Homo sapiens: one gene and its partner. The protein of the gene in region 1 interacts with the protein of each later gene in a biochemical or structural test. Each region holds a gene or a part of one and is shown on either strand. Other genes may lie near its edges.

Region 1 (3,765 bases):
AAAAAAAAAAAAATAGGGCCATGTGCAGTGGCTCACACCAATAATCCCAGCACTTTGGGAGGCCAAGGTGGGCACATCACCTGAGGTCAGGAGTTCAAGACCAGCCTGGCCAACATGGTGAAACCCCATCTCTACTAAAAATACAAAAAAATTAGCCAGGCGTGGTGGCGGGCACCTGTAGTCCCAGCTACTTGGCAGAAGAATCACTTGAACCCAGGAGGCGGAGGCTGCAGTGAGTCAAGATTGCACCACTGCACTCCAGCCTGGGCGACAGAGCGAGATTCTATCTCAAAAAAAAAATAAAAATAAAAATAAAAAATAAAAAATTACAGAATTGAAAGGAACCTAAGACATCATCTACGCCAACACCTTCACTGTACAGATCAAAGAGCCAACAGGCAGAGAGGCTCCAGGACTTATCAGAGGTCACAAAGTGCTAGGAACAGAGCTGGGATTAGAGCTCCATCCTGAGGTTATTTCCTTTTCCACTAAAACAAGCTGCCAAACTACAGCAGCCCACCACCTGTTTATGAAAAGAGGCTTCATTTATGAATTCTCTGCAGCTGCTTTTGCACTGCAGCAGCACAGCTGAATAGCTGTGACAGAGACTATATGGCCCACAAAGCTAAAATATTTACTATCTGGTCCTTCACAGAAAAAGTTCACCAACCCCAGCACTAAAGCATTCTGCCTCCTAAAATAATATCTAAGTAACTACGACAATCAGGGTGTTAACCAATCAACAACCAGTCTTAGAATGCCCAGTTAAGAACAAAACAAAAAACATGTGATTAATTTAATAGCTGTGAAGTAAGCAATAAACAGTGCTGTCAAAACAGAGACTAGGCCTGGCACAGTGGCTCACACCTGTAATCTCAACCATGTGGGAGGCCAAGGATGGAGGATCACTTGAGGCCAGGAGTTTGAGACAGCCTGAGCAACACAGTGAGACCCCGTCTCCACAAAAAAATTAATTAGCCAGGAATCGTGGCACATGTCTGTAATCCTAGCTACTGGGGAGGCTGATGTGGGAGGATCCCTTGAGGCCACAAGTTTGAGGTTACAGTGAGTTATGACAGTGTCAATGCACTCCAGCTTAAGCAACAGAGCGAGACACCGTCTCTTAAAAAAAAAAAAAGGAAGGGCCGGGCGCAGTAGCTCACGCCTGTAATCCCAGCACTTTGGGAGGCTGAGGTGGACGGATCACTTGAGGTCAGGAGTTCAAGACCAGCCTGGCCAACGTGGTGAAACCCCATCTCAGCTAAAACTACAAAAATTAGTTGGGCGTGGTGGCGGGCGCCTGTAATCCCAGCTACTCAGGAGGCTGAGGCAGAAGAATTGCTTGAACCCAGGTGGCGGAGGTTGCAGTGAGCTGAGACCGCACCATTCACTGCACTCCAGCCTGGGTGAGAAAGCAAGACTCCATCTCAAAGGAAAAAAATATCCAGAAAAAACAGAGACCATCCTTAGACAACTATTAATAACCCATACCTTAGCATTAAAGCATGTTTCTATTTATGTACATGTATACACACACACACACACAAATACATCCACATCACCTCAGGTTGAAAAAGGACTTACTGTTTTTCTCTCAGTCTCTCATATGTTTCCATGTCAGGTTTGATCTGCTTGGTCAACCGATGATACTGGCGTAACTGGGCAGCAGCATAATCTAAAAATATAAAATGAGAATCAGCGATAATATATTTCCTTGTTTGGACCTTCCTATTGAGAGAAAAATCTAAATTATCACAGGTGAGTATCTTTTATCCAAAACGCTTGGAATCGGAAGTGTTTCTGATTTTTTTCAGATTTTGGAATATCTTTATTATACTTAAATTCAAAATCTGAAATGCTCCAATCAGCATTTCCTTTGAGCATCATAGCACCATGTTGGCATTCAAACAGTTTTGGATTTTGCAACATTTGGGATTTCAGATTTTCATACTAGGGATACTCAATCTGTGTGAAGTAATATATGCCCATAACACTATTCTAAGCATAGCTTCTATCCTGAAGATGCTGACAAACAGACTTTGATAAATTTTATCATCAAGTATTTAAAAACCTGGCTAACTGAAGTACAGCCTTTTTTTTTAACTTCTCTCCTAAGAGACATATTTGTACTTTTCTTGGTCTTAAGCCTCATCAAGAATATCCCACGAAGCACAAGAGGCACATCCTTTCTTGAAACCAGAAACAATGAAGGAAATGACTAACAGCCCAGTCAATAAGGTTCAATAAAGGTCAATCTGACCTGAAAATCCCAGATCAGGGTTTTTCCTCTTCTTTTTCCTCTCCCATCTTTCTGCATCTTCTGCACTGATCTCCAGCAACTTCACTTTCTCATAGTCTTCTCCTCTTGCCGCACATTCCTAAAAAGAAGAAAAAAGCTGACACCTACAATTATGATACATGCAATAATTTGATCTACTTTACATCAAGAAAGATCCAATAAATATCAACCAATACTTTAATAGTATTTTTTTAGTTGGAGTTTCACTCACTCTGTCACGCAGGCTGGAGTGCAGTGGCGCGATCTCAGCTCACTGCAACCTCCACCTCCCAGGTTCAAGGGATTCTCATCTCTTAGCCTCCCAAGTAGCTGGGACTACAGGCACATGCCACCATGCCCGGCTAATTTTTGTATTTTTAGTAGAGATGGGGTTTCACCATGTTGGCCATGCTGGTCTCAAATTCCTGACCTCAAATGATCTGCCAGCCTCGGCCTCCCAAAAGTGCTGGGATTACAGGCATGAGCCACTGCACCCGGCCACTTTAATAGCATTTAAAGGAAATTTGGGAATATACTATGGTATATAAGTGAGCACATGATACTTATTGAGTGTTTATCAGGTGTCAGACCTTGTTTTAAATGTTTTACATGCATTAACTCACTTAATTCATAATGAACTCAAATAATTATTGTTACAGTCCCTGTTTTATTGATGAGAAAACAGAGGTACAGAGAAGTTAAATAAACTCACCCAACGTGTTGCAGTTGGTACTGAGCAGAGCCAGAATTTCAATTCTGGCAGCTTGGCCTAAGAGCCAGTGTATACAACCACCATGTTGTAGTGTCTTGATACAACAGAATGATTGACTAAATCACTTATGAAGATAGAATAGTTCCTAACCTTTTTCTTTTCCTCTTCCTTTAGTTCCCACTCCAAACGAGCTTTTTTGGCTTCCCAATTTGCAGGTAATTTTAGTCTTTTATCTTCTTCCACAACTTCCTGGTGATTTAATTTACGAGCTTCATTCTAAAACCGTAACACAAGAAGTCTGTCAGCTAAAACATGAAAATAAATCCAGATACACCTTGCCTTCTTTGAGGAGGGTCAGGCAGGACATATTAATAAGCTGACCCCATTTTATCCTAAAAGCAATAGAGAGCCATCACAGGATTTTAAGCCAGGGAATAGCCTAATAGGGTCTACGTTTTTATGCAGTCAAGAAAAATGTGTTGAGTTGCACTGGTTTGCTGTTCCAGAGCCCTGGAGGTTAAAATCAGCTTTGCCTCTATTGAGTTGTGTGGTCCCTTTTTATTGGATCAGAACAAGGTTTTGCAGTATTGGAGACCATACTATAGTGGCACTTAAGTAGACTTTATTTGGCATTACTATTAAATTGGCCAGGTGCAGTGGATCACGCTTGTAATCCTAGCACTTTGGGAGGCTGAGGCAGGTGGATCACCTGAGGTCAGAAGTTCAAGACCAGGCTGGCCAACATGGTGAAACCCCGTCTCTACTAAAAATACAA
Region 2 (3,740 bases), on another chromosome or scaffold:
GGAGCAGAAGAGGAAGAGGTAAGGTGGGGCAAGCAAATGAGATTAAAAAGTTAGTGGCCAAGAAGTTGGGGGTGCACGCCTGTAATCTTAGCAATTTGGGAGGCCGAGGCGGGTGGGTCACTTGAGTCCAGGAGTTTGAGACCAGCCTGGGAAATATGGCAAAACTGTCTCTACAAAAAATAGAAAAATTAGCTGGGCGTGGTGGCGGACACTTGTGGTCCCAGCTGCTCGGTAGGCTGGGGTCGGAGGATTGCTTGAGCCTGGGAGGCAGAGGTTGCAGTGAACCAGGATCGTGCCACTGCACTCCAGCCTGGGCGACAGAGAGAGATCCCATCTCAAAAAAAAAAAAAAAAAGTAGTAAGTTCCAGTGGGACTGGGGAGAGAAGTAGAGGGTAGAAGGTGGAACCAGCGCTGCTTATTGATGTCAGGTTGTTCATGGAGAGTGTTCCTAGACCTGCGGGGTTTGAGGATGAAGATAACCTGGGTAGGCTGGGCGCGGTGGCTCACGCCTGTAATCCCAGCACTTTGGGAGGCCGAGGCAGGCGGATCACGAGGTCAGGAGATCAAGACCATCCTGGCTAACAGTGAAACCCTGTCTCTACTAAAAATACAAAAAATTAGGCTGGCGTGGTGGCAGGCACCTGTAGTCCCAGCTACTTGGGAGGCTGAGGCAGGAGAATGGCGTGAACCCAGGAGGCAGAGCTTGCAGTGAGTGGAGATCACACCACTGCACTCCAGCCTGGGTGACAGAGTGAGACTCCGTCCGTCTCAAAAAAAAAAAAAAAAGAAGATACCCTGGGTAAAAGAGAAGGAGAGCGAGTCCTTCTTGTGTGCTTTTGACCCCTCTACTGAAGAAATGCTAAATAGTAGGAACAGCAACCCAACCACTGAGGGTTTTGAATATATACTTCAAAATTCTAAGGGAAAAACCTTCATGCTTATAGTTGAATTTATAAGGGTGAGTGATGTGGAAAAGAGCGTTGGGAAGCAGCGCCTGTTTGTGTTCTAGTCTGGGGACTTGGTCTCGTTTGGAACAAGCAGCAGTTTGCAAAGGCCTAAGCCTAGTGCTTCACTTTGACTTAGTGGTTCTGTTTCCTTTTCTCCGTAGTTAGAGGCACGTGATGGGGCTTCCTTGCCTTTCTGTCTCCAAACTCTTTCTCTCTCTTAACTGCTGTGGGTATTTTAGAAGGAAGACTCGCCAGCCAGATGCCAAAGATGGGGATTCATACGACCCCTATGACTTCAGTGACACAGAGGAGGAAATGCCTCAAGGTGAGTGAGCCCACTTACTGATGAAAGAGGTTGTTCCTGTGACTCTTGGACTTTTCCAGTTGCTCTGTGCACTTTATTTTCTTGTGGACTCCTGTTTGTTTGGCTCCCTGCTTGGGGCCTATGTCCAAGAGGTTTGTCCCAAGAGAGCTTCAGGGGAAACTTTGGAAAAAGCTTTGCTATATTATATACACCTCCTTGATGAACTGTGCTGTGCTGTTTCACCTGGTATAAGCATTTCAGATAATATATACATTGAGGGTCTCCTGCCTGACTAAATTCCTTCATCATCCAATGAAGATTTCCCTATATCCTAATTGTTCTGCCTGGCCCCATAAGAACCCTAGGAAATAGGAGTGTTCAGCAGGCTGAGTGAGAGATTGGGAGTGGAGATGATTTCTCTAGTGTTTGTGGAAATGGCTTCACCTTGCTTATCTTCCCCATCTCTACAACCATCAACCCTCTGAAGTACACACTCCAAAGACGGCAGACTCACAGGAGACCAAGGAATCCCAGAAAGTGGAGTTGAGTGAATCCAGGTGAGTACGGATGTTGCTCCTGCCCCTTCAAGAATTCTGTGTATCGCTGAGGAAGGGACTTTGTTCCCTTGGAGAGGGTGGGAAACAAACTGCTGGTCATCAATAGAACTCAAAACTAGAGGCCTGCAGCTTTTAACATTTTATATTCTCATTTAATTTCAAACTTACTGAAAAGTTATGAGAAAAGCATGAAGAACTTCTGGATGTCCTTTACCCAGAATCTTCAGTTGTTTAAATTAATAATTCTCTCTTTCTGAGAGAGAAGAGTTTTACAATAAGGATAAAACTTAATGTCTTACTGTAACCTCAGATTCTTCTTGGTGGGATAGATACATTTTGGCCATTTGTTTTTGAAATGAAGAATTTTTACCACCAGGGTTTTAGGAAACATTTTTATCTATGAATTTTGTTTACTGGACACCAAGAAACTCCATAGCCAAGTTTTACGTTTTTTCTTTTTATACTTTAAACACATAATACAGTGTATTTACTGAAAAAAATTTGAAACACATTGAAAAGTATTTAGAAAAAAAATTAAAATCAATTGTAACTCTATCCCTCAAGGACAACCATCAACTGTATCTTAAAATGCTTGAATCAGCTCGTATAGATCTCACTTTTTTTTTTGAGACCGGAGTGCAGTGTTTATTTTTTACTTTTTTACAGTGTTTATTTTTTACTTTTTGTAGAGACGGGATCTCACCATGTTGCCCAGGCTGGTCTTGGACTCCTGGCCTCAAGCAGTCCTTCTACCTGAGCCTCCCAAAAGGCTGGGATTACAGGCATAAGCCACTGTGCTTGTTTGATCTCATTCTTTTTAATGACTGCAGGGTTTCCATGGTATGGATGGGTAAAAATTTAATGAAATTCTCTGATGATAGACATTTGGGTTGTTCCCTGTTTACAGTAAAACAGTATTAAATTTATCAGTGTGCACTCATGCAAGTATAGCTATAAGGTGAGTTCCTAGAAATGGGCTCCCTGGGCCAAAGGATATACGCTTTTAAGGGTTTAGTAAGTGCTGTTAAATTGTCCCGCATTGACGCTGACCGGGTTACTATTTTACAGTGAATGGGAATGCCAATTTCCCACACGCTAGTACAATAGTTTAGCTTTAAAGGGGGCTCCTCAAGGGTAGCACTGCCATCAGAGGCAGATGTGTGTGTGAGAAAGAATATTGAGGGGACGCCTCTACTGTATTAATACTATGGATTTTCCTAGTATAGCTGTTTCCTGAGAGCATTTGGGTTTGTTTACTCCTCTTCCCCCTTTCTTCTGTCTGGGGCAGGTTGAAGGCATTCAAGGTGGCCCTCTTGGATGTGTTCCGGGAAGCTCATGCGCAGTCAATCGGCATGAATCGCCTCACAGAATCCATCAACCGGGACAGCGAAGAGCCCTTCTCTTCAGTTGAGATCCAGGCTGCTCTGAGCAAGATGCAGGATGACAATCAGGTCATGGTGTCTGAGGGCATCATCTTCCTCATCTGAGGAGGCCTCGTCTCTGAACTTGGGTTGTGCCGAGAGAGTTTGTTCTGTGTTTCCCACCCTCTCCCTGACCCAAGTCTTTGCCTCTACTCCCTTAACAGTGTTGAATTCAACTGAAGGCGAGGAATGTTGGTGATGAAGCTGAGTTCAGGACTCGGTGGACCCTTTGGGAATGGGTCATGAAAGCTGCCATGGGGTGAGGAAAGAGGAGACAGTGGGAGAGGACAATGACTATTGCATCTTCATTGCAAAAGCACTGGCTCATCCGCCCTACTTCCCATCCCACACAAACCCAATTGTAAATAACATATGACTTCTGAGTACTTTTGGGGGCACAACTGTTTTCTGTTTGCTGTTTTTTTGTTTTGTTTTTTTTCTCCAGAGCACTTTGGTCTAGACTAGGCTTTGGGTGGTTCCAATTGGTGGAGAGAAGCTCTGAGGCACGTCA

Evidence for each region. The genes of interacting proteins can lie anywhere in the genome.
Region 2: the proteins of SYF2 (region 1) and MCM3 form a complex in vitro, tested with the Homo sapiens proteins (one study listed by BioGRID).

Annotation. Positions count from the first base shown.
Region 1 is NC_000001.11:25,225,858-25,229,622, forward strand, and holds part of SYF2 (pre-mRNA-splicing factor SYF2), read right to left. Parts: intron 3,267-3,765; coding exon 3,141-3,266; intron 2,379-3,140; coding exon 2,261-2,378; intron 1,676-2,260; coding exon 1,585-1,675; intron 1-1,584. UniProt on the Homo sapiens protein: Involved in pre-mRNA splicing as component of the spliceosome.
Region 2 is NC_000006.12:52,264,143-52,267,882, reverse strand, and holds part of MCM3 (DNA replication licensing factor MCM3), read left to right. Parts: coding exon 1-18; intron 19-1,186; coding exon 1,187-1,272; intron 1,273-1,738; coding exon 1,739-1,808; intron 1,809-2,474; exon of another isoform or gene 2,475-2,497; coding exon of another isoform or gene 2,498-2,648; intron 2,649-3,096; coding exon 3,097-3,295; 3' UTR 3,296-3,740. UniProt on the Homo sapiens protein: Acts as a component of the MCM2-7 complex (MCM complex) which is the replicative helicase essential for 'once per cell cycle' DNA replication initiation and elongation in eukaryotic cells.